Homo sapiens: one gene and its partners. The protein of the gene in region 4 purifies or fractionates together with the protein of the main gene of each other region. This does not show direct contact. Each region holds a gene or a part of one and is shown on either strand. Other genes may lie near its edges.

Evidence for each region.
Region 1: the proteins of PRC1 (region 4) and ARHGEF17 purify together in Homo sapiens (affinity purification with mass spectrometry; 2 studies listed by BioGRID and IntAct, with this or other methods). This does not show direct contact.
Region 2: the proteins of PRC1 (region 4) and ZC3H18 purify together in Homo sapiens (affinity purification with mass spectrometry; 2 studies listed by BioGRID). This does not show direct contact.
Region 3: the proteins of PRC1 (region 4) and ACSM1 purify together in Homo sapiens (affinity purification with mass spectrometry; 2 studies listed by BioGRID and IntAct, with this or other methods). This does not show direct contact.

What each region holds. Positions count from the first base shown.
Region 1 is NC_000011.10:73,303,335-73,311,278, reverse strand, and holds the start of ARHGEF17 (rho guanine nucleotide exchange factor 17), read right to left. Parts: upstream 3,004-7,944; 5' UTR 2,641-3,003; coding exon 1-2,640. UniProt on the Homo sapiens protein: Acts as a guanine nucleotide exchange factor (GEF) for RhoA GTPases.
Region 2 is NC_000016.10:88,629,399-88,632,495, reverse strand, and holds the end of ZC3H18 (zinc finger CCCH domain-containing protein 18), read right to left. Parts: intron 2,012-3,097; coding exon 1,915-2,011; intron 1,396-1,914; coding exon 1,197-1,395; 3' UTR 532-1,196; downstream 1-531.
Region 3 is NC_000016.10:20,624,675-20,631,709, forward strand, and holds part of ACSM1 (acyl-coenzyme A synthetase ACSM1, mitochondrial), read right to left. Parts: intron 2,643-7,035; coding exon 2,515-2,642; intron 2,417-2,514; coding exon of another isoform or gene 2,402-2,416; exon of another isoform or gene 2,049-2,401; intron 849-2,048; coding exon 749-848; intron 1-748. UniProt on the Homo sapiens protein: Catalyzes the activation of fatty acids by CoA to produce an acyl-CoA, the first step in fatty acid metabolism.
Region 4 is NC_000015.10:90,984,507-90,991,541, forward strand, and holds part of PRC1 (protein regulator of cytokinesis 1), read right to left. Parts: intron 4,119-7,035; exon of another isoform or gene 3,124-4,118; intron 320-3,123; coding exon 187-319; intron 1-186. UniProt on the Homo sapiens protein: Key regulator of cytokinesis that cross-links antiparrallel microtubules at an average distance of 35 nM. Essential for controlling the spatiotemporal formation of the midzone and successful cytokinesis.

The DNA of each region.
Region 1 (7,944 bases), on a different chromosome or scaffold from region 4:
CCTGGTGGCACCAGGTTCTTCTGGCTCTGCCCGCTGCTCTACAAGGATGGGCTCGCTGCTGGATGGAGGCAGCATGGGCTCAACTTCTCGGATGGGCTCCCCTCCAGGGCCCTCGAATCCAGGCCCAGCCAGCTCCCCACGGCGGCTGGGGTCACTCAGGGATTTCTTCTTGGGGGCTTTGCCAGCAATCCTGTCGTCCACCACACGCCCCAGGGTGCCAGGCCCCTGAACTATGCTCTGAATAACCTCCTGATATCCCTTGCTCTCTTCACTGCCCACAGACCAGTCACTGTGACCACTGGTCAAGCCCTCATCCATGGCTGAGGTGGCAGGGAGCCCTGTCTTGGGGCTCAGTGAGCCCAGGAGGTTGCTGTCCACAGAGAACCCAGTAGGCTCTTCAGAGGTGGCAGCCCGGTGGCGCTGAGGAATTGGGTCACTCAGGGACCTGTAGGCCTCCCCTGCCTCCCCATTGCTCAATTCGCTCCCACCAGAACCTGAAGGTGGGACTTTGCGTCGTCGGCGGAGGGCACCTGGTGTGGGAGGGGTCTCAGGCGACACCAGGGCCCACCCGCCCAGACTGTCCTCAGTCCCAGGGCCATGGTGGTTCGTCTGGGCCGAGGATGAGGAAAGAGGTCGCCACATCCCTGTGGTACCCAGGCCGCAAAATGCTGCAACAGGAGGCTCAGGGTCTGCCCCAATGCCTTCATCTGTCAGACTGGACTCAGGGCCTGAGAGCTCCTCCTGGGACCGCTGCCCTCGGGTCACATCCCCTGCCCAGTCAGGGCTTCCAGGGGGGGCATCGCTTCCATCATCTTGTTGGGCACCCATGCGCTGGATCTTCTCAAAAACCTGGCGGGCCTCCTGCACATATTGGTCCTGGACGATGAGGGGCAGCGGATCCTCCTCGGCACCAGGGCCTGTGAGCAGGAGCTCGGAGGAGCTGGACTTCAGAGCACTGGTGCGGGGCAGGCGGCGGGCCATGGGCTTCTCAGAGCAGGTGAATGACTTTGCTCTCCGCAGAGTGGCTGTCAAGTCCTTGAGTGTGGGGCGCGTGCCAGGTGATGCTGGGGCTGGGATGGGTATGGGTTCAAGTTGCCCCACAGGGCCACCTGCGGATGGTGAGTCTCTGCCATCTAGGGGGTTGCTTCCACGGTCCCCGGAGCTCCCACCAGGTTTTCGGACCCTCAGCTCTGAAAGGTCTGAGCGCAGGAAACTGAGAAGCGTCAGGGTCTCTGAGGCGATATCTGGATTTGACAGGGACTTCCGCTGTCGACTCTTTTCAGGCTCAAATCCTCCATCCCTCAATGCCCTAGAGGTGCCTCCAGGTCCTTTGGCACGGGTTCGAGCCTGGGACCGCAGGAGCCCTTCCCCAGCTCCAAAGCTAGGGGAGCGGTACACGCCCCAGCCCCCAGAACCCCTACTAGACCATAGGTCGTCGTCCTTGAGGGTCTCCGTGCTGGAATAACGGCTGCTACCGCGGGAGCCTGCGGGGCTGGCCAGGTACGAGGGAAAGCTCACCTTGGCCACACGGAAAGCTCCTCCCACAGAGTCAGACATAGGCCGAAGTCCCTCCTGGGGACCTGGGACGCAGGGCGGAGAGCCACTACCCCACTCCCGGAGTCCTTCTTCTCTAGGGGCTCTTGGAGATGTTGGGGGCTCAGGGCTCCCAGAAACCCCTGCTGAGTTCATGCTGCTTAGATTTAACCCATCACTGTCAGGCCTGCAGTCCTGATCCAATAGGGAGCTTCCAGGCCTGAGCCCGGGCCTCCCTCCCCAGCGGTGGCCGCCCTCACCGTCTCGGTCGTCGTCACTGCCCGAGGAGTGGCCGCCGTGGTAGGCCGGACTCTGGGCTCCAGGCAGCTGCGGCGGGCCCTCCTCTTCCTCCTCGCTGGAGCTGGCAGCACGACTGCGGCTGACAGGATAGGAGGCGGCGATGGAGGAGGAGGAGCAGGAGGCCCGGGCCCCGGCCTGCGGTTGGGAGAAGATATGCCAAGAATGTAAACCATCCGCTGGACGCTGCGCCCGCTCCTGTTGCTGCTGCGGCCGGCGCAGCCTCCCTTCGGTCTCCGGCCCGGTCAGGGGCCGCGCCGAACGCAGACCCGCCAGGGGGAAGCATGTCCGAGGGGGTGGCGTCGGTGGCTGCCGCGACTCCCGAGCCGGAGGCTCCCACGCGGCACCGTCGGGGCTGGGCGTTCCTGGGGATTCAGAGTCGGCGCTGGGCCTCCTGGAGCCAGGACCGCCGAAGAGCTTGCGCATCTCGGTGACGCTGGGCCAGGCTCCTCGCGCTGGGCCCTCGGCCGCTTCTTCCGCGGCCGCGGGTAAGACGCCTCCGTCTCGGGTCCCAGCGGAGCCGTCGTCCAGACGCGGCGCGTCGAAGCGCCGGGAGAGCTGGCGAACCGACGGCGAGAGGCTGCGGAGCGGGCGCGGCTGCGCGGGGGCGGCCAGGGGCCCAGACGCCAGCTTGGACACGCGCCGAGAGGGCTGGCCCCGGGCAGCCGTGGTCGGCCGGCACGAGGCGCGTCGCCTCAAGCCGGGGGTGTCCGTGTCCTCCTCCCTCAGCCCGGGGCCGCCGCTCCAGCGCTCCAGCAGCTTGAACGAGACGCTGCGGTAAAGCTGGGGCCGGGGTGCCCCGTCCGCCATAGTGGCGTAACTCACTCCGGGGGGGCTGGCCTCGGGCAGCCGCGGCCAACCCCCCCTGCGCCCCCACTCCCTAGGAGCGCAGCGGCCCACGCCGAAAGCAGCGCACGGGAGTGTGGGAAGAGGACGCAGAGACCGGAGCAGAGGTTTCTCTGCCGCGGCTCAAGTTTCTGTGGCCACCGGCCGCAACGTCTCCATCCCGGGCGGCCCCTCCCGCCTCAGCGCCGACCCCCAGGCCCAGCCCCCGCCGCGGCTGGAGCGACCAGGGGCACCGCGGCACCGCCTGGGCGGGATCCCAGCGCTTGGTTCCTCGACTCTGCGTCCGCCTGCCCAACGCCCTTGGCTGCTCGCTCCTGGCACCCTTTTGTTGCAAATAAACTTTGCGGCAGAGGCAAGGGGGCGGGGGGCGGGGCCTCGCGCCCAAAAGAGGGGGTGGGCTCCGGGCGTGCGCGAGCCTGGGAACCGCGTGGTGGGAGGGAATCAGGGAGGAGCCGAAGAAGAAAAAGCCTGCTGGAGGACTTGCAGACTGAGGCGACCCTCTGGCCCTCCAGAGAGGTCCCTCGGGAGCCCAGCAGGCCGAGCTGCCCCCAGGGAGTCGCTGAGACACACACAACCGCTGAGCGTGCTCAGCTCCGCAGACTCGCAGCCAGGGCGCCGCGTCCACCGCGGGCCACCAGCCTCCGCGCGGAAACACCTCCTGCCCAGGGGCTCCAACATGGCAACCTCGGACTCACAAACTCTCGTACACACTGACACTCAGGTGCACGCAGACGCACACTCTCTGGGCCGGGAAAGGGGTGGGACTCGGCGCCAGGGAGAGCCCGGGGAGCCGCGGGCTAACTGAAGGGTCCGTCGCGCCCTACTCCCCGCCCAGGCCACGCCTCCTCCCCTTCCCTCCCCCTCCCCGCCCGCCCTCTGCGGCGAATTTAGCTGTAGCCACGCCCTTGTCCCCCCATCTCGCTCCCAAGCGCCCCGCCCATCCCACCTCCCAGCCGCCTGTCCGGCTCCGACCGGCCCCCAACCCGCCCAGCGTTGCTCCAGAAGTCCCACCCTTCACGACCGCGCCCCCACCCCTACTTTTCCAGCTGCCACGCCTTCCACCTGCCCCTGCAGTCTGGCGGCTCTTCTCCTGGACTCTCCGCCTGGATCCCCGAGCCTTTTCTTCTTGCTCTGGAGTACGCGGCTCTTGCGCCCCCTCGCGGCGTGATTTTCCCAACGCACGGAGTCCTGGACGGATAAAGCAGCACCCATCCCCCAAAAACGGAGAGTTGTGAAAACTTCCTTTCAGTCGTTACCTAATCCCCTTAGTCTTTTTCAGACCTTCGCAAAGCGCACTGCCCCTTCTTAGGCCTTATACACAAAAGGAGCTTCGACGGGAACGCCCTCGACTTCCCACTGCCAAACCTATACTCTTACCCGCAGCTGCTTCACCTTCTTGGCAGGAAAAGTGTCGGTTGTTTCTCTGGCTTCACGCTGATCCCTCGCTTGAGCTCCCCTCCCGCCCCTGCCTCCGTCTGAGTCTCACATTGTTCTCGGTATTGGGGCATCATCCCCTTCCGCATTCCCACCTGCCTCTAGATCCCATTCATCCTCCCGGCCCAACTAACGAATGAACGAACGAATGAAAATGTATGGAGTACCTATAATGTATGGGCAATATTATTTAACTTATTTTTTAAAATCCACAAACCACCCTTGGGGACAAATATTATTACCCCTTCTCTGTGGACCGTGAAGGAGAAGTAACTTTGACCACTATGCAAGTCAGGAAATAGCAGCTCCTGCTAAAATTCAGATTTCAGGGGCTTCAAACACCATGCTCCTCCAGCCAGCTCTGAGATGCACCCCCAAATCCTGATGAAGAAGGAGGTTCTCGTTCCTTTGAGCCCCCAGTCTCCTCCTTCTCCTCCTTGGGCCTGAGCTCACTCTCCTCAGGAACAGAGGATAACCTGGTCTGACCCATGCCCCTCCAGCGCTGCCCAGCCTTCTTCAGGCCTGGTCAAACTGCCCTGGCCCCTCCAACCCCCAGTAGCAAGGCCTCGGGGACACATAGTTAGGTCAGCAGTCTGTGCATTACCCAGCCAACCCCACTGCCACCAGGTCCAGCCAAGGAGATGTAGCTGGGCCAGACTAGGCTAGGAGACGGGGTTCAGAGGAGAGGGGCAGGCAGGAGGATAGGAAAGGATGGTAGACACCCAGGGATTGCCTGACTACCGAATGAGAGAGAGAGGACTCAGCCGGGACTCCAGAACCTGCTTGCTACTCATATACCCCACAGGATGAGGAGGTCACTCTCCACTCTCTGGGCAGCCTCTTGAGTTGTGGAATATCTCTGTAGCAAGAAAGTGCTTCCTCTCTGTGTTGAGACCAGCATCCAGGGAGTCCCTCACCTCAACCTCATCTCAGCTCTGCCTCAAGGGGGCCAAGGAGTAAATCTCTCCCTTTTCTCTAGGAAATTGATAAAAGAGAGCCCTGCTGGCCTGTGCCTCTCTGTTCGGCCTTACTCTGTGACCTTGGGTAAATCCCTGCACTTGCTGGTGTCTGAAAAGTGAGGAGTGGGGTGTCTGAAAAGTGAGGAGTGGTTCAGGTTCCCCAAGAGTGCCCTCTCTGGCTCTGGCATTTGATGTCAGACTCTCACCTCCTTTAGTATTTTCTTTCTGCTCTTTGGGGCAAGTTTTGGTGTGTGCTGTGGGGTGAGTTGTGGAGGGGTGAGTTGGGGAGGGGTGAGTTGTGGAGGGGTGAGTTGTGGAGGGGTGGGTTGTGGAGGGGTGGGGGACAGGACTCTCATCCCAGGAGTCACTCTCTCCCCCCATAATGATGACTCTTACTATCTGAAATTTGTACTTTTCCACCTCCCTGTCAGTTCTGGGACAGAAACCCTTATCCCATATCACAGATGGGCAAGTGGATAGAGAGGAGTGGAGGTTCAGGTCATGGGCTCCCAGAGTCCTGTGGCTTGGCCTTGAGGTGAGCTGGCTGGGGCCTTTGGCTCAGGAATCCCCTTGGTGGGGAGGGGGGTGTTTAAGGATCTAGACTGGGTCTCTGTCCAAAGGGAAGCTCACCCAATCTGAGAGTGGCTTGATTGCTTCCAGTGCTTCAGGAACCCTCCCACCCCCAGCTCCTTATGATCCAGTATAAGACAAAGTTATCTTCCATGAACAGAAGAGATCTGGAATTTTAATGGTGCTTGGTAATTATGTACAGCAATTTTTAGCCCCAAGAAGACTTATTTGATAGGGGGCTGGGAGCACTGGGCACCAGAGTGGAGAGAAACCCTACGCTGGGGTTTTGAAGCCAGGCTCACCTTCCGCAGCTCACCCCCTTTTCTCTGGGCCCCAGGCTCCTCACCTATGAAAGGGTAATGAAAACAATAGCCCATCTACCCAGTGAGTCATGGTGATCTAGTGAGGTGAGGACCGTGGAATCCCTTGGGGAAATCAAGATGGGAAGGTTTTGAAGGTCACAGGTCATGGCCAGTGATGGGCTTTGGTGGGCTTCGGGTACAGATAAGTCCCCAGCTCATGATATTTCAACTTAATGATTTTTTGACTTTATGATGATGCAAAAGCTATGTACATCCAGTAGAAACCATACTTTGAGCACACATATAATCATTCTGTTTTTCACTTTCAGTATTCAATAAATTACATGAGATATTCAGCATTTTATTATAAAATAGGCTTTGTGTTAGATGATTTTTGTCCAACTCTAGGCTATGGAAGTGTTCTGGGCCTGTTTAAGGTGGGTTAGGCTAAGCTCTGATGTTTGGTAGGCTAGGTGTATTAAATGTCTTTTTGACTTATAATATTTTCAGTGGGTTTATTGGGATGTAACCTCATCGTAAGTCGAGGAGCAACTGTACTTAAGAGGGAGAGAAATGATGAGTGCGGGGACAAGAAGCAATGAGCTCCATGAAGGAGCTGTCTTAGGGGGAAATCTGACTCTTCTGACTCCATTGCAAAGCCAAATAGAAACTATCTGAGATTGCCCCCTTTCCTATATAATTAGACCTTAAGCACACAGGATTAAATTCTTTATAATATTTTGATAATGATACATTCTCATCAGTTATTTAATTGGCTTTCGCCAAAAAACAAAACAATACAACTAGGACCTTTAAAATAATTCACATCTCATTATACAGTTCTTCTGCTCCCATCCTCCTGCTGTCCCACCACACAGAAAATCAGAAAATCATCATCTCAAATCCTGTGTTCAGCATTCTCTTGCTTTCCTTCAAACATATTCCTTCAAACTATATATTCCTTCAAACTATATCTTTTCATTTTAGTTGTTCTTAACTTTATAAAAAAAAAAAAGGCATCCTGCTGGACGTGGTGGCTCACGCCTGTAATCCCAACACTTTGGGAGGCTGAGGCGGGTGGATTGCTTGAGGCCAGGAGTTCAAGACCAGCCTGGCCAACATGGTGAAACCCAGCCTCTGTTAAAAATACAAAAATTAGCCAGGCGTGGTGGTGCATGCCTATAATCCCAGCTTCTTGGGAGGCTGAGGCAGGAGAATCACTTGAACCCAGGAGGTGGAGGTTGCAGTGAGCCAAGATCACACCACTGCACTCCAGCCTGGGCAACAGAGCAAGACTGTCTCAAAAAAAAAAAAAAAAAAGGAGGGGGGTTTCTTGCTTTACAAAATTTGTTGGGACTTCTTTTTTCTTAATATTAAGAAAAGATTTACCCATATTGTTGCATGCCTCTATACTCCATTCTGGCCATGTGGACTATTTCAGTGTGTGACTATATCACAGTGTGTTGATCCAGTGTCTTGCTGATGCACATTTGGGTGTTTCCAGGTGTTTGCTGAGCATTGTGCATGACTCCAGGTACACATGGACAGAAGTGCTTGGGCATAGGGCAGGCAATTGATCAACATTGGGAAGCATTGTCAAGCTGGGATCTAATTTCTCGTCTATGTTTTTTAATCATCTGTGTTTCCTTTTTTTTTTTTTTTTTTTTTTTTGAGACGGAGTTTCTCTCTTATTGCCCAGGCTGGAGTGCAATGGTGTGATCTTGGCTCATTGCAATCTCTGCCTCCCAGGTTCAAGCAATTCTCCTGCCTCAGCCTCCCAAGTAGCTGGGATTACAGGTGCATGCCACCACGCCCAGCTAATTTTTATATTTTAGTAGACACAAGGTTTCACCATGTTGGTCAGGCTGGTCTCAAACTCCTGACATTGTGATCCGCCCATCTCAGCCTCCCAAAATGCTAGGATTACAGGCATGAGCCACCACGCCTGGCCTTGTGTTTCCTTTCATATGAAGTGCTTATTTGTGCCTCTTGCTCATTTTTCT
Region 2 (3,097 bases), on a different chromosome or scaffold from region 4:
TGGAGGCCCTGGAGCGTGCACCTGGGAGGCCGCTGCCCAGGCGCAGGCCTGTGGCTTTCAAGGTGGAAAGCAGGGAGCAGCAGCGGTGGGTCCTGGGGGGCTCTGCCGGTGGCCCCTGCTGTGGAACGTGGCATCACACGCGGGGCCTGGCTCAGCAGGTCTGGGGCCTGCACACGGAGCCGGTGGTGGTCACTGCAGTGGTGGCAGCTGGGCTTGGGGCTGGGAGTCAGCCCTGGACCTCTTCCCCTCCAGCAGCTCCACGGCCCCTGCAGGGAAAGTACCTCCACCTCACGGACCAAGGAAGCCCCAACCCAGCCCCACGAATGGGGAAACTGAGGCGCAATGCTCTCCTGGGCTGGGTCTGAAGGCAGGAGCTGCTCCACAGCCGGTCCTCCCGGGGGGAGTGAGTGCACAGCCACACCCTCGCCCCCCAGCGGCTCCCGAGTGCTGGGCCGAGTGCAGTGCACGACACAGAGGCAGCCCCGGCTGCGCATGGGCAGAGGGCGCACACACCACGAGGGCAAGGACAGCTGCTTATCAAAATATTTTATTTTAGGAGACCCCTCAAAAAAAGACCCACCACATTAGACAGACGCCCCAACAACACCCTTGGCCTTTTTTTGGTCTTTTCTGTATTTTTTCCTTTTTAAATCAACTAAAACAATTTGATGCTTAAAATAAAAGACAGGAAATATTTCCTGATGAGACTTTAGTCGAGAATATAGATATATTTCTGATCCGGGGGCGGGTGATCAGGGGCGGGGGAGGAGAAGGATGTGCCACCAGTGGTTCGCGAGGTTCCGTTTCTCAGCTCAGGAGGGAGCCTGGCTGCCTGGACCCGGGCTAGGGACCCAGAGCTGGGGCTCCACAGGCCTGACCAGGGCCAGGGAAGAAGACGGAGGAGGAGGAAGAGAAGGCGGGGCTGGCGGCTGGGGCTTGTAATTTACATGAGAACCGTGCTGGTCACTAGCGCTGTCTGTGTCTGTCTGTCCTGCGGGACTTCTGCTCTGGGGAGGGAGGCTGGGATTCAGCGTCGTTGTCATTTCCTGTGTGGCTTCTTTTCCAGCTGAGAAACTTTTTTTTCTTTTTTACTTTTTAAAAAGAATCACAGCCAAAATAAGACATTAACTGCAAAATCCAAAATGGCTGCGCTTACCCTATGTATAAAAATGCGTCCAGTCCGGTCGGGGCACGGCCTATGCTTTCCCGGGGATCTTGGCCCGCTTGCGTGCAATAGCATCCTCCACGGCCTTCAGCTGTTTCAGCAGCTCCTCCCGCCGAGACAGCGTGCTGGCCTTCCCTGATTTGGTGCTGGCGGCGCCGGGATCCGAGGCTTTGCCGGGCACGCTCGTGACCTTGCTGGAGCTCTTGGACTGGGGTGACAGCTGGCGCTTCCTACAAGGGGGTGGGGAAGACCTTGAGCCCCCAGAAGCCACGTCTGCAGGTGGAAGGGGTGACCTCCCCGTAGGGGCGCTTCCACTGTGTCCTCAGCGGCCACCAGGACAGGCAAGGGGCTCCCTGGATGGCCAGGCTCCCACTGCCACAAGCAGGCCTGGTCCTAGCCACTGGCTCCCGGGCTTTGTGGAGCAGACTGGGAGGGTCCTGGGCTGGCCCCGCACAACCTCCTGTTATTCTTCCCACCTCTGTGCCCAGGGATCTTTTGCCCAAGGGCATGCGGAGCAGAGGGCACCCTCCAGCCTCAACCAGGGCAGGAGCGTGTGTGTGTGTGTGGGGGGGGGTGGGGGGTGGGGCTGCAATTCGCTGTCCATGCCCCTCACCCCGTCAGACCAGCAGGAGCTGTAGTGACGCCTCCAGCCTGGCCCAGTGCTAGCCCTGCTGCTGCTGGCCTCCCTGGGGAAGCGACTGGGGCTGGCCCCCTCGGTGTGCCCAGGGCACATGCTGGGTGGGACTCACCTGTCAGCCGGGGCTGCAGGGGCTTTGGAGTTCTGGCCTCTCTGCCGCTCTGGCTTCGGGGAGCCCAGTCTCCCACCTGACTTCCGGTCCCGAGAACCTGGGTGATAGGTACAGAGTGAGACCACCCTCCTGATGTACAGGGAATGGCTGTGTGGGTGGCCTCACCGATGCCAGGGACTCACTTCTAAAGCCTGAGGCTGCTTAGTTCACCACCTTCATTTTTATAAAGAAATAAAAAGGGGAGAGCCAAGTAGGAGAAGAGAGATGTGGGCACCAAGGCATCTGGAAATGAGGCTGAGGCCAAACCTGGGCCCCAGGTTCCAGCAAGCAGCCAATATCTCACGCAGAGAGACAAAACTCCTTCCTAGCTTTGAAGAAATTTATCACATGGGTCTTCAAATACGGAACAACAAGAAAGACATGGCAGTAAAGAAATACAAGCAAAGCCGAGAGACTAGGAGTGTTTCACTCTGGCAATGTTAGGAGGGAGGCGCGGCAACCGAGGGGGGGGCCACTGCCCAGCGCAGGCCCAAGGCTGGTGCGAGAACAAAGGTCCGCAGGACCCCAGAGGCCCTGGTTCCAACCCCAGGCAAGGGCAGCAAGGCTGTTCCAGACCAGCCACACAGGGCACAGGCCCTGGGCTTAGGGACAAAGGTGAGCAGCTTCCTCTTCCTGTGTCCGACAAACCCAGAGAACTGCTTGGGAAGGGGTCTGGAAGCCCCCTGCCTGTTCTCTGTGTCTGGGAGTGTCTGTGCGGGTGGCCAGGCCCCCTTGTCCTCTATCTGGTTTGAGCTCCACCCATCAAAGCCAGCCAGGACAATCTCCCTGTCTTTCCATCTGGGCCCCAGCTCTTGGGGTGTGGTCAGCATGGCTGGGGGTCCCCGAGGCCCTTTCAGGTCTGTGTGGTTCAACAGTAATATAGACACTATCTGCCTCGTCACTCAGTCCGCAGGAGCCTGGGAGGATCTCCAGAAGGCACGAGGCATGTGGGTCCAGCCGTCTTCCGTCAGCCAGACTGAAGAGATTTGCAAAAATGGAAAAACCAATGCCATTCCTGCTCATTTGTTTTGGAAAATATATTTTGCAAAAATGGCACATGTGTAAAAAAAAATACAGTTGCTCTTGTTGCCCAAGCTGCAGTGCAATGGTGCAATCTCAGCTCACTGCAACCTCTGCCTCCCAG
Region 3 (7,035 bases), on a different chromosome or scaffold from region 4:
CACATATAGAAGGTGATTAATAAAGACTTTTTTTTTTCAGATGGAGTTTCATTCTTGTCGCCCAGACTGGCGTGCAGTGGTGTGATCTTGGCTCACTGCAACCTCAGCCTCCCAGGTTCAAGCGATTCTCCTGCCTCAGCCTCTCAAGTAGCTGGGACTACAGGCGCCCACCCCCCATTCCACCCACCTGCCCCCACCACACCTGGCTAATTTTTTTTGTATTTTTAGTAGAGGTGGGGTTTCACCATGTTGGCCAGCCTGGTCTTGAACTCCTGACCTCAGGTGATCGGTCCACCTCAGCCTCCCAAAACATTGGAATTACAGGCATGAGCCACCGTGCCCGGCCTAATAACACTTTTCAATATACAAATGCATGTATGTTCGGGAGCCACATTGCTGAGATGCCATTCTGCCTCCACCCCTTACTCTAGCTGGGTGATGTGGAGAGGTTACTTAACCTCCTCCTGCTTCTCTTTCCTCATCTATAAAAAGCATAAGTGTTCTTAGATTACTACATTGTGTGAGAGTTAAGTGATTTGGCATATATAAGTGCTCATTACATAGTATCTAGCATCCTTTTATTCAGAGCCACAGAGAGTCCACACTGTCCCCTGGTGCCATACCGTGTAAACGCACATGCACACTATGCCCTTCCACCAAGGCTGCACAGGTAAAGCCTGGATGTTTCCCCTGCACCTGCTTTCCTAGTGCCCACGCACAGACATGATGATCTCTGTGTTCTCCTCACCTCCCCTCGAATCGGGTCTGGGCTGCCCACCACGGCTGACTCCGCCACCGCTGGGTGCTCCACCAAAGCGCTTTCAACCTCTGCAGGCCCGATGCGATACCTGGAGGATGAAGGGTTCTGAGGCAGATGCCAGGGCTGGGGTGAACCAAGTCCCCAGATCTCCTGCTTTGGAGTCACAGCTTCCTTTGGCACAGAGGGTGGAGGTCATAGGAAGCCAGGGACCCCTGACTTGTCTGTGTCATGGGCCCAAAGTGTAAAGACCTGGACATTATAGGCTGAGAAATACAAGACTGCGGTGCTCCCGGCTTCTTGCCTCACTGCCTGTACTGATGGAGGACGGCTAATGTTTTGTCTCCTCAGAGCTTGGCCCAAGCAGCTTCCCCCAACACGAAATCTCTTGGAAGCCTCAAACTTGGTCTTAAACATTCATGCAAATTCTGCATACTATTTCCCATTGTATCAGCAGGATTTTCGGCTTTTATTATATATACTTAAGGCTTACAACATGATGTTTTGATGTACATATACATAGTAACGCGATTAAAACACTCAAGCACACTAGCATATCCATCGTCTCACATAATTGCCTTTTTTTTCTTTTGTGGTAAGAACATAAAATCTACTCTTTGTGCAAATTTCCAGTACATCATGTTTTAGAAATTTAAAATAAAATCCCATCCAGGCTGGGCATGGTGGCTCACACCTGTAATTTTAGCACTGTGGGAGGCTGAAACAGGGGGATCAATGGAGGTCAGGAGTTCAAGACCAGGCTGGCCAAGATGGTGAAACCCCATCTCTACTAAAAGTATAAAAATTAGCTGGACATGCTCACTTGAAGCCAGGAAGCAGAGCTTGCAGTGAACCAAGATCAGGCCACTGCACTCCAGCCTGGGTGACAGTGGGAGACTCTGTCTCAGAAAAATAAAATAAAATAAAATAAAATAAAAAATAAAATAAAAAAATAAAAATGCCATCAATTTCTCTAAAATATCCAAGGGAAATTGTTACTGTAGTGTAATGCGCCTTTTTAAAAATCATGTAGGGGTAGGGACAGGGACTCAGAGCCAGACTACCTCAGTTCAAATCTGGATTGCATCCTGTGCTATCTTTGAATCTTTAGGCAAATTTCCTTGCCGGTCAGTGACCCACTTTCCTCGTTAGTAAAATAGGGATAATAATCACATCTCCCATCCAGCTTTGAGAGGTGGGTTATATAAAGCATTAAGGACAGTGTTTTCACATAGTAAGTACTCCAGGTTAGCTAAATAGTTACAGTAAATAATATATTTATACTAATAAATAATTTTATAATAATAGATTTATTATGCTCATAGATGTATAACAAATATATTCATAATAATAAAAATAAACAATAGCTAAAGGTTAGCTATTATTATTACTATGTTTGTCCTGTGACATTTGGTGCTGCATTAGAGGGGCACAAACATGAAATAGGCTCCCTGAACCTATGGAGACCAAGACAGAGTCTCCCTTCTCAATTCCACTCCCCCCACCCCACTGTAAATTGCACAGTGTCTTATTATGGCTCCTCTTCCAGACCCTCTTGAATTTCATTTTGCTTGATTCTTCTGCGTGCAGAGAAGGTTCGGGAGGTATACTGAAGCCTGGAATCAGGGCACCATAGACACGGCTCTATTCAGATTTAGGCTGAAATTTCACCAATGCGTGAAAAAATGTCTAGGTAAGCAAAATTCCGTGAGGCATGTGACGGCAACAACAGCCAGCCCAGCATCAGCCACACCTACCCAGAGGCATTAATGATGTCATCACTCCTCCCCAGGAAACAAATGTAGCCCTCTTCATCCATCTTACCTCTGTCCCCAGTGTTGTAGAAGTCCCCACATTCCACTTTAGCTGTCTTCTCTGGGTCACCCTGCAAAAAGAAGAGAGCTCCTTTGTTGAAGGCAGTGAATTTAGAGGTGATGAGCCACAACCTTGGGTTCCAATCTGGGTTTGAATTCTGCCTCTGTTTCTACTCGGTACCTGGGCAAGTTTTGCCATTTCTGAGTCTATTTTCATTACATGTAGCGCATGATGCATGCGACTGCTCTATGAGTGGTTGTGATTAAACCAATTTCAATGACAATGTTTAAAAATATCAATTCTGCCACGTGCGGTGGCTCACGCCTGTAATCCCAACACTTTGGGAGGCTGAGGTGGGTGGATCATGAGGTCAGGAGTTCAAGGCCAGCCTGCCCAACATAGTGAAACCCCATCTCTACTAAAAATACAAAAATTAGCTGGGCATGGTGGTGCATGCCTGTAATCCCAGCTACTGGGGAGGCTGAGGCAGGAGAATCGCTTGAACCTGGGAGGTGGAGGTTGCAGTGAGCCAAGATCGCGCCACTGCAATCCAGCTTGGGCAACAGAGTGAGACTTCATCTCTCTCTCTCTCTCTCTCTCTCTCTCTCTCTCTGTATGTATACATATATATATATATATATATATATATATATATATATATATATATATATATATATTCATTTTGTGTGACACTACACTAGAATGAAATTTCCATTATGGTGTGAACCTTGCTTACTGCTATAAGCTCAGCATTCACATAGAGCCTGGACAGATGAGAGGGGTCAATAAACATTTGCTGAGGGAATTTTCTTCCCTAAATACTATCTCATTTCATCCTCACAGAAAGCCTATGAGTCTAGTATGTTTTTAAGTTAACTTTTCATTTTAAGACAAATGTGGATGGCATGTAGTTATAAAAAATAATGTGGATCGATGCCCTGTACTCTTCACTAGTTTTCCACAGTGGTACCATCTTGCAAAACCATATGATCAGTATCTTAGGCAGAATACTGACCTTGATACAATCCACCAGTCTTCAGATGTCCCATTTCACTTGTGTGTCTGTGTATTTAGTTGTATGCAGTTTTATCACATATGTAGGTTTGTGCATTCCCCACCTCATCAGGAAGATCTCTGATGGTGCTCTTTTATAACCACACCCACCTCCCTCTCATTTCCTCTTCCTCTCCTCTCACCTTCCCTGACCCCTTGCTAACAACTAATTTGTTCTCTATTTTTATAATTTTGCTGTTTCAAGAATGTTATATAAATAGAATCATACAGCATATAACTGTTTGGGACTGTTTTTTTTTTTCTCAGCATAATCCCCCAGAGATTCATCCAAGTTGCATGCACAAACGGTTTGATCCTTTTTGTTGCTGAACAGTATTCCATGTTATGGATGTAGCTGAGTTTTTGTTTAACCATTTACCTGTTGAAAGCCATCTGGATTGTTGTCTTCAGGTTTTGACTATTTAGAGTAAAGCTGCTATGTACATTTGCATACATGTTTTTGTGTGAAGTTGGCACTTTTTTTGTCGCCCATTTTAAATAAGAAAAAAACCTAAGCTTGAGGGAGGCACATTTGCTTGCTCAGAGTCACTCAGCTGCTCACTGAGAGGGTTGATATTTGAATTTAATTCTTGCTTCATGACCGATTCACTTGACCCCTAAGCAATAGCTCTTGTGGAACATGAAATGGTTTTAAGAGCTACCCGAAAAAAACATTTTAAAAACATCAAATTACATCCCTTTTTGGATTCACTTCTGATTGTTCTGAGTATATCAAGTTGATTCTTAGTTTAGTGCTGATATGCTTTGAACTCTCTGGAAGTCTCAAGAGGAAGACATGCTTCAGGATCAGAGCTTCCAATGAGAATAGGATTTAGGGAGACTATGAGAAAATTGTTTTTTTTAAGCCTATAGTTATGGTTATAAATGCCTTCTGTTTATGGCAAGTAATACTGTTTTCCACTCATGATATTAGATCAATGTGAGTGCCTTTATGGACTGAGTTGAGAGGTACAAGATGACATCAACAACATAAATGGAAGATGGAACCATACAGGAGTACAGTTTTTTTTTATACAATTGAAGTTAAGTAGGTATTAATTCAAATTAGATTGTTACAACCTTAGGATGTTGTATGTAATATAGTAATCATAAAGAAAATATCTGTAGAATATAAACAAAAGAAAATCAGAAGGGAAAAAATGTGTCACTACAAAAAGGAAACTAAACGTAAAAGAAGGCAGTTATAAAGGAAATGAGGGCCAGAAAATATTAAGCCACACAGAAGACAAATAGCAAAATGGTAGAAGTCCTTCCTTATCAGTAATTACTTTAAATGTAGGTGGAGTAAGCTTTCCAATCCAAAGGAAGGAATTGGCTAAGTGGATAATAAAACACGATCCAAATATACACTATCTACAAGAGATTCATTTTAGATTTAAAGACACGAATTCCACTGGGCGTGGTGGCTCACAACTGTAATCCCAGCATTTTTGGAGGCTGAGGCGGGTGGATCATGAGGTCAGGAGATGGAGACCATCCTGGCCAACATGGTGAAACCCCGTCTCTGCTAAAAATACAAAAATTAGCTGGGTGTGGTGGTGTGTGCCTGTAATCCCAGCTACTGGGGAGGCTGAGGCAAGAGAATCACTTGAACCAGGAAGTCAGATATTGCAGTGAGCTGAAATCGCACCACTGCACTGCAGCCTGGAAACAGAGGGAGACTCCAACTCAAAAAAAAAAAAAAAAAGACACAAATATGTTGAAAGTTAAAGGATGGATAAAAATATATTCCCTGTGAATTGTAACCAAAAGAGAGCTTGGGTTGTGGGTTGTTATACTAATATCCGACAGAAAAAACTTGTTTTTTTTTTTTTTTGAGTCAGAGTTTCGCTCTTGTTGCCCAGGCTGGAGTGCAATGGCACGATCTCAGCTCACCACAACCTCCGCCTCCAGTAGCTGGGATTACAGGCGCATACCACCGTGCCCGGCTAATCTTTTTTATTTTTAGTAGAGATGGGGTTTCTCCATGTTTATCAGGCTGGTCTCAAACTCCTGACCTCAAGTGATCCACCTGCCTCGGCCTCCCAAACTGCTGGGATTACAGGCGTGAGCCACGATGCCCGGTCAAAATAAAGTTTAAGTTAAAAATAATTGCAAAAGATAAAAAATGATATTGTCTATTAATAGAAGGGTCAATTCACCAAGAAGATATAATAATCATAAACATATAAGCAATAAACCTCAGAGCCCCAAAATACATGAAGCAAACATTGTCAGAATTTAAGGAAGAACTGTACAGTTCTACAGCAATAGTTGGAGAATTTAATATACCACTTTCAATAACGAGTAGAAAAACCAGAGAGAAGATCAATAAGAAAATGGAGGACTCGAACACCACCACAAATTAACTGGATCTAGCAGACATATACAGGAAACTCCATCCAACGGCAGAAGAACACACATTTTTCTCAAGTGCACATGGAACATTCTCAAGGATGGACCATATATTAGGCCAGAAGAGAAGTATTAATTAACTTTAAAAGACAGAAATTATACAAAGCATCTTATCAAGTCACATGAAAGGAATTAACAGAAGGAAAACTTTTAAAAAATCACAAATTTTCCCAATCTTTGCAAAATTAAACAACATACTCTTAACTAACCAATGAATCAAAGAAGAAGTCACGAGGAAATTTAGAAATTATCTTGAGACAAATGAAATAAAAAACACAGCATATTAAAACTTATAGATTGCAGCAAACACAGTGCTAAAAAGGTAATTTACACACATACTGTCTTAGCCCATTCAGGCTGCTGTAACAAAATGCCATAAACTGGGTGGGTTATAAACAATAGATATTATCTCTTAGAGCTCTGGAGACTGGGAATGCAAGATCAAGTCACCAACAAATTTGGTGTCTGGTGAGGCTTCATAGATGGCTGTCTTCTTGATGGGGCCTCACATGGAGAATGGGACTCTTCTGGAGAACCCTACTGGAGTTGCTTTTTAAAGGGCACTAATATCACTAATCATCAAGGAAATGCAAATTAAAACCACAATGAGATATTACCTTACTCCTGCAAAAATTGTCATTGTTAAAAAAATCAGAAAACAATAGATTTTGGCATGGTTGTGGGAACACTTTTACACTGCTGGTGGGAATGTAAATTAGTACAGCTGCTATGGAAAACAGTATAGAGATTCCTTCAAGAACTAAAAGTAGAACTACCATTCGATCCAGCAATCCCACTACTGCGTATCTACCCAAATAAAAAGAAGTCATTATATGAAAAAGACATATGCACATGCGTGTTTATAGCACAATTTGCAATTGCAAAGATATGGAACCAACCAAAGTGCCCATCAACCAATGAGTGGATACAGAAAATGTGGTATATATACACCATGGGATGCTATTAAGCCATAAAAAGCTGTGAAATCATGTCTT
Region 4 (7,035 bases):
GCATGAGCCACCGCACCCAGCCTCCTCAAATTTCAAGAAGGGACTTCAAAACCAAACCAAACCAAACAGGAAGAGCCTGTGCTATCCTAATGCCGATGATCACATGTCCCTTCTGTATGCTATCTCGGGTGAGACACCAACATCCTTACCCTGGTCCAATGCAGAGACCAGTACTATTCAACCCACCTTGATATGCTTCTTTACCACCTCAGTTCTTTGTAACCGCTGGTCCTCTGGAATCCCAATTAGCTCCCATATTTCCCGAAGGTGATTTAGGGCTTTCTGCAGACATACTATGGACTCCTCCGCCAGCACCTCACTGAAAACCAAAAACTAAGGCCTGTTAGTTACATCAGTCACAGCCTCTGGACTAAAAGCACTATTTTCGAGAACTAAAAAGACTAGCTTCTCAGTGGCCTCGAGAAAAAAACAAATTGAAAACAAGCATTCAGCTTAATTCACCTTTAACCACTCCCCATCCCTTTTCCTACCAAATGCCACTAGCAATACAAGATTTCATATCATATTACATCATGGAAGCTCAACCTTCTGGACTTTCAACAATGATCTACCTATGGAAGTATAATACAGAATTATAAATACTTTTACTAAAGAAAAACCGGACAAAAGATGTTGGTAAAATAAACTAACACAAGAACTTGCTGGTGAGAAACTCCTGCAAAATGTTTGGCAATTTATTACTATTTTTTTGGTGTTTTTTTTTTGTTTTTTCTTTTTTTTTGAGACAGCATCTTGCTCTGTCGCCCAGGCTGGAGTGCAGTGGTGCAATTTTGGCTCACTGCAACCTCTACCTTTTGCGTTCAAATGATTCTCCTGACTCAGCCTCCCGAGTAGGTGGGACTATAGGCAGGTGCTACCACACCCAGCTAATTTTTGTATTTTTAGTAGAGTTGGGGTTTCGCCATGTTAGCCAGGTGGGTCTTGAATTCCCGGCCTCAAGTGATCCGCCCTCCTCGGCCTCCCAAAGTGCTAGGATTACATATGTGAGCCACTGTGCCTTGCCATTTTATTTAATTAATTTATTTATTTTTATTTTCTTTTTTTTTTTTGAGACAGAGTCTCGCTCCGTTGCCCTGGCTGGAGTGCAGTGGTGAGATCTCAGCTCACTGCAACCTCCGCCTCCCAGGTTCAAGTGATTCTCCTGCTTCAGCCTCCCAAGTAGCTCAGATTACAGGTGTGTGCCACCACACCCAGCTAATTTTTGTATTTTTACAAAAACACAAAAATCCACCCACCTCGGCCTCCCAAAGTGCTGGGATTACAGGCATGAGCCACTGCGCCCGGGCCTAGTATTCTTAAATTGCAACCGGCAGCTCAAAGAATGGCTAAAGTTAAAAAGCCATTGAGATGGGGTTTCACTACGTTGGCCACGCTGGTCTCGAACTCCTGACCTCAAGTGATCCACCTGCCTCGGCCTCCCAAATTGCTGGGATTACAGGCGTGAGCTACCATGCCTGGCCTATTCTTCTTAAATTACAACTAGCAGCTCAAAGAATGGCTAAAGTTAAAAAGACAGCATTAAGTGTTGGTGAGTATATAGAAAAGTGAGAACTTTCATATGCTGCTGGCATGGTGTAAATTGGTACAACTATTTTAAAAACTGTTGGCAGTCTATCTACTAAAGCTGAACCCAGCAGTTCTACCTCTACATACATACCTAGCAGAAATGAACACATACGTTCACCAAAGACATATATGAGAATGGTTAGAGAAGCACTACTCATAATAGCAGGGAAACAGAAACAGCCTAGATGTCTATCAACAGAATGAATAGTACATTCCTACAATGCACTAATGCAGCAATGAAAATGAACAAACTGGCTGGGTGCAGTGGCTCACACCTGTAATTCCAGGACTCTGGGAGGCCGAGGGGAGCAGATCACTTGAGGTCAGGAGACCAGCCTGGCCAACATGGGGAAACCCTGTCTCTACTAAAAACACAAAAAATTAGCTGGGTGTGGTGGTGCGCCTGTAATCCCAGCTACTGGGGCGGCTGAGGCAGGAGAATCGCTTGAACCCGGGAGGCAGGGTTTGCAGTGAGCCAAGGTTGCAGTGAGCCAAGATTGTACCACTGTACTCCAGCTTGGGCGACAGAGCGAAACTGTCAAAAAAGAAAATGAACACACTACACATGATATGGATAAAGCTCAAATTATTATATTTCTATTTTATTTATTTATTTATTTTACTTTTTTGGGGTGATGAAATAGTTCTAGATCTTGATGGCGATTATACAACAGTATACAATTGAAACTACCTGTAAAGCGAGTCTGTTTTACTGTGTATGAATTATACCTCAAATCTTTTCATTTTTTTAATGAAGTAAAATAAACAACTAAAAAATAGTTGTAAGGGGAAGAGGAAGGAAAAAAAAAACACTTTAGGCTGAGCAAATGCCACTAGATATGCAAATGTGTATCACTATGTGATTCCGTTGACAGAGAGTTCAAAAACAGGCAAAACTGGCCAGGCACGGTAGTTCACGCCTGTATTCCTAGCACCTTGCAAGGCCGAGGCAGGAAAACTGTTTGAGCCCAGGAGTTTCAGATCATTCTGGGCAACATAGTGAGACTCTGCGTCTTAAAAAAAAAAAAAAAAAAAAAATTAGCCGGGCACGGTGACGTATGCCTATAGTCCCAGCTACTCAGGAGGCTGAGGTGGGAGGATTGCTTGAGCCTGAGAGGATGAGGCTGCAGTGAGCTATGATCACTGCACTCCAAAGCAACACCCTATCTCAAAAACGAAAACAAAAAAAGCAAAAACAAAACCAGGCCAAACTAATCAATGCTTTCAGAAGTCAGGATAGTAGTTCTTTTGGCTCAGGGGAGGCAGTGACTGGTAGAGGGCTTCTGGGTTGCTGCTTACACAGGTGCATCAACTGTGAACAATTCACTGAGTTTACACTTGATTTCTGTACGTTTCTGAATGTATGTTATTCTTCAATTACCAAAAGCTTATTTTAACAAAAAATTATTTATCTAAAATACAAATTTAACTGGCTTCTGTATCTTATCTTTTAAGAACAGCTTACTTTAAAAATTATCACAATTAGTCTGCTTTACAGAACATTTAAAGAATAGAAATTTTTCTCCCTTTTCTTAGGTATAACAGGACAACTAAGACTGCCCTGGCACCAGAGAAACTACAATCTAGATGTGCTCTGCTTCCAGTCGGCCGAGAAGCCTGCAGCAAATCACCTAAACACTTAAGGTCTTTGTGTGCCATCCACACCCAACTGCAACTAGAGACTTTCATTAGCCCCTTTCTGTCTCAGAGCTTTCGGTGGTTCTACAAGTCACCAGCCTGGATCTCTAACAATGTGTCTCTCCAAAGCTGTTAATACATTCACATCCAAAATATCTCCAGCCACGAAATCCTAGTTTAGAGGTTGCCCGTCCTTGTTGAAGAAACATTTCTACACAAATACCTGTTGCCTATACCAGATGGCCATACCAATACCCAAATACTGACAAACGTTTAAAAGAATTTACGGTACTCCCTTCACTTTAGAAATGTTAACAGTTCAAGTCCAACAGAACTTAAAGGAAAAAAAGAGAAATGTTAACAGTAAGTAAGGCATTTATTTAACATAATCTCAACTAAAGTCCAACTAAAGAGCTTCCCCAGGCAAACACTCCTTTTGCACTTCATTTTGAAGACAAAAGAATGCACAAGTTAAAATCCTAATATTACCATTTTATTAAAAATAACTTTTAAGATCCAATCTGTGGCCAATATTCGATCTGGATGCAAAACCCTGGCTTCCAGACAGGCCAGCCAGGGGCACTGCTCTGAAGGTCATTACTTAAGTATCCCAGTCTCCTCAGTCTGACAGACCTACCCCTGCCCAGCCAATCTCCACATAACAGCTAGTTGTTCATAATAAATCCCATCAGATCCCCGCTTAACTACTCCCCTTCAAAGGCTCCACTGCCCTCAGGAAATAGTTCAACCACCTTCTGTAGAAAGGCCTTCTAAAACCTCTCTCCGAGTCTGTCTGCTAATCTCTCCCACTTGACACTCCCCAGGTCTCTGGCCAGCTGAACTTCCCGGGCATTTCCTGAACAATGCCCCTCAATAAACCACATGCAACTCTCATTTTCTGATGCCACCGCGCTTTGTACATTCAGTTCCGTCTATATGCCACCACCTCCTCTGGAGAGCTGTGGACTTGTCACTCACCATTCCCCCCAAGCCCCCTAGTAGACCATAAACTCAAGGGCAAGGACCACCACATCTTATTCATCTTCATTTTACCACACCCTAACTCACAGTAGTTGTTCAATAGATATAAAATGAATGGCCCTGAATTCCTCCCAAAGGGTCCTATGCTCCTAACCTACCTAACCTAATAGAGGTATTATGCACTCTGGATCCTGACGAAGGTTTACAAGCAGGGCTGCCTATCTCTGTAACACATCTAGAAGGTAAAGTGATCGTTTTTCTGAGTAAAAAAATCTAGCACAATGGGCAAAGAATCTGAATAGACATTTCTCCAAAGAAGATATAAAAATGGCCAATAAGCACATGAAAAGATGCTCAATATTAGTCATTAGGGAAATGCAAATCAAAACCACTTCATAGCCAACAGGATGGTATAATAAAAAAAAATATATAGCAAAAAGTATTGGTGAGAATCTAGAGGAACTAGAACCCTCAGACACTGCTTGTGGGCATGCAAGACGGTACAGCCTCTTTGGAAAATAGTCTGGTAGTTCCTCAATTGATTTTTTGTTTTTTGAGACAGGGCCTCACTGTCACCTGGGCTGGAGTGCAGTGGTGTGATCATAGCTCAACGCAGCCTCAACGCCCTGGGCTCAAGCAATTCTCCTACCTTAGTCTCCCAAGTAGCTGGGACCATAGACGTGCCATCGTGCTTGGCTAATTTTTTTTTTTTTTTTTTTTTTTAAGGTTTGCCATGTTGCTCAGGCTGGTCTTGAACTCCTGGGCCCAAGCAATCCTCCCACCTCGGCCTCCCAAAGTGTTGGGATAACAGACATGAGCCACTGCACCCGGCCCCTCAGTTTAACAGAGTTCATACAACTCAGCAATTTTATTACTGGGTATTTGCCCAAAAGAAATGAAAACACATTTATACAAAAACTACACAACTGTTTATAGCAGCATTACTTATAATAGCCAAAAAGTGAAAAAAAAAATACAAATGGCCATCAACTTATGAATGGGTAAATAAAATGTAGTATATAGGCATACAATGGAATATTATTTGGCAATAAACCTTGAAAACATTATGTTAAGTCAAAGAAGCAAGTCACAAAAGACCAGAGCTACGGTTCCGTTTTTATGAAATATCCAGAATAGGTAAAAAGTAGATTTGGGGTTTGTATGGTTTTTTGAGACAGGGTCTCCCTCTTTCACCTAGGCTGGAGTGCAGTAACATGATCATGGCTCACTGCAGCCCCAACTTCCTAGGCTCAGGTGATCCTCCCACCTGAGCCTCCGGAGTAGCTGGGACTACAGATGTGAGCCACCACACCCAGCTAACTTAAACAATAAAATTTTTTTTTAGGCCGGGTGCGGTGGATCACTCCTGTAATCCCAGCACTTTGGGTGCCAAGACCGGCGGATCACGAGGTCAGGAGTTTGAGACCAGCCTGGCCAATATGGTGAAACCCCGTCTCTACTAAAAATACAAAAATTAGCTGGGTGTGGTGGTGGGCACCTGTAATCTCAGCTACTCGGGAGGCTGAGGCAGGAGAATTGCTTGAATCCGGGAGGTGGAGGTTGCAGTGACCTGAGATCACGTCACTGCACTCCAGCCTGGGTGACAGAGTGAGACTCCATCTCAAAAAATAAAATAAAATAAAATAAAAAATAAAATAAATAAATAAATAAATAAATAATTTTTTTTTTTTTTTTAAGAGGTAGAGTCTCTCTATGTTGCCCAAGCTGTTCTTGAACTCCTGGGCTCAAGTAGTCCTCCCACCTTGGGCTCCCAAAGTGCTGGAATTATAGGTGTGCGCCACCTTGCCTAGCCGAAAAGTAGATTTGTAGTTGCGGCTGGGGAGAATTTGGACCATGGGGTGAAAGGGGATTGACTGCTAATGGGATTTTAAAGGGGTGATAAAAATGTTCTAAAATTGATTGCAGTGATGATTGCACAACTCTGAATATTCTAAAAATCACTGAATTATAATATACAATTTAAGTACATTGTATGGTATGTGGATTATACCTCAAAGCTGTTATTAAAAACATCTTGGCACATAATCTAAAACATTTTTGGTTTCTTTTTTTTTTCTTTTTTTGAGACAGAGTCTCAGTCTGGCACCCAGGCCGGAGTGCAATGGTGTGATCTCAGCTCACTGCAACCTCTGCCTTCTGGGATCAAGCGATTCTCCTGCCTCAGCCTCCTGAGTAGCTGGGACTACAGGCACACGGCACCACGCCCGGCTAATTTTTGTATTTTTAGTAGAGACGGGGTTTCACCATGTTGGTCAGGCTGGTCTCAAACTCCTGACCTCGTGATCCGACCGCCTCGGCCTCCCAAAGTGCTGGGATTACAGGCGTGAGCCACTGTGCCCGGCCCATAATCTGAAATGTTTTTGATTTGTGACTTAATTGAAAAACTTACAGATTTTTACTATGGCCGGGCGCGGTGGCTCGTGTGCAATCCCAGCACTTTGGGAGGCCAAGGCGGGCGGATCACCTGAGATCAGGAGCTCGAGACCAGCCTGGCCAACATGGTGAAACCCCATCTCTACTAGAAATACAAAAATTAGCTGGGCGTGGTAGTGGGTGCCTGTAATCCCAGATACTCAGGAGGCTGAGGCAGGAGAATCACTTGAACCCGGTGAACCCAGGAGGCGGAGGTTGCAGTGAGCTGAGATCATGCCATTGCACTCCAGCCTGGGCAACAGAGCAAGACTGTCTCCAAAAAAAAAAAGAAATAAAAATTTTACTAATATATAACGTATTTTATTTGGCCTGTTGGAAATGGGTGTTTGGAATTACCAAACACCCATTATTATTATTCTAGTTAGAGACACTTCC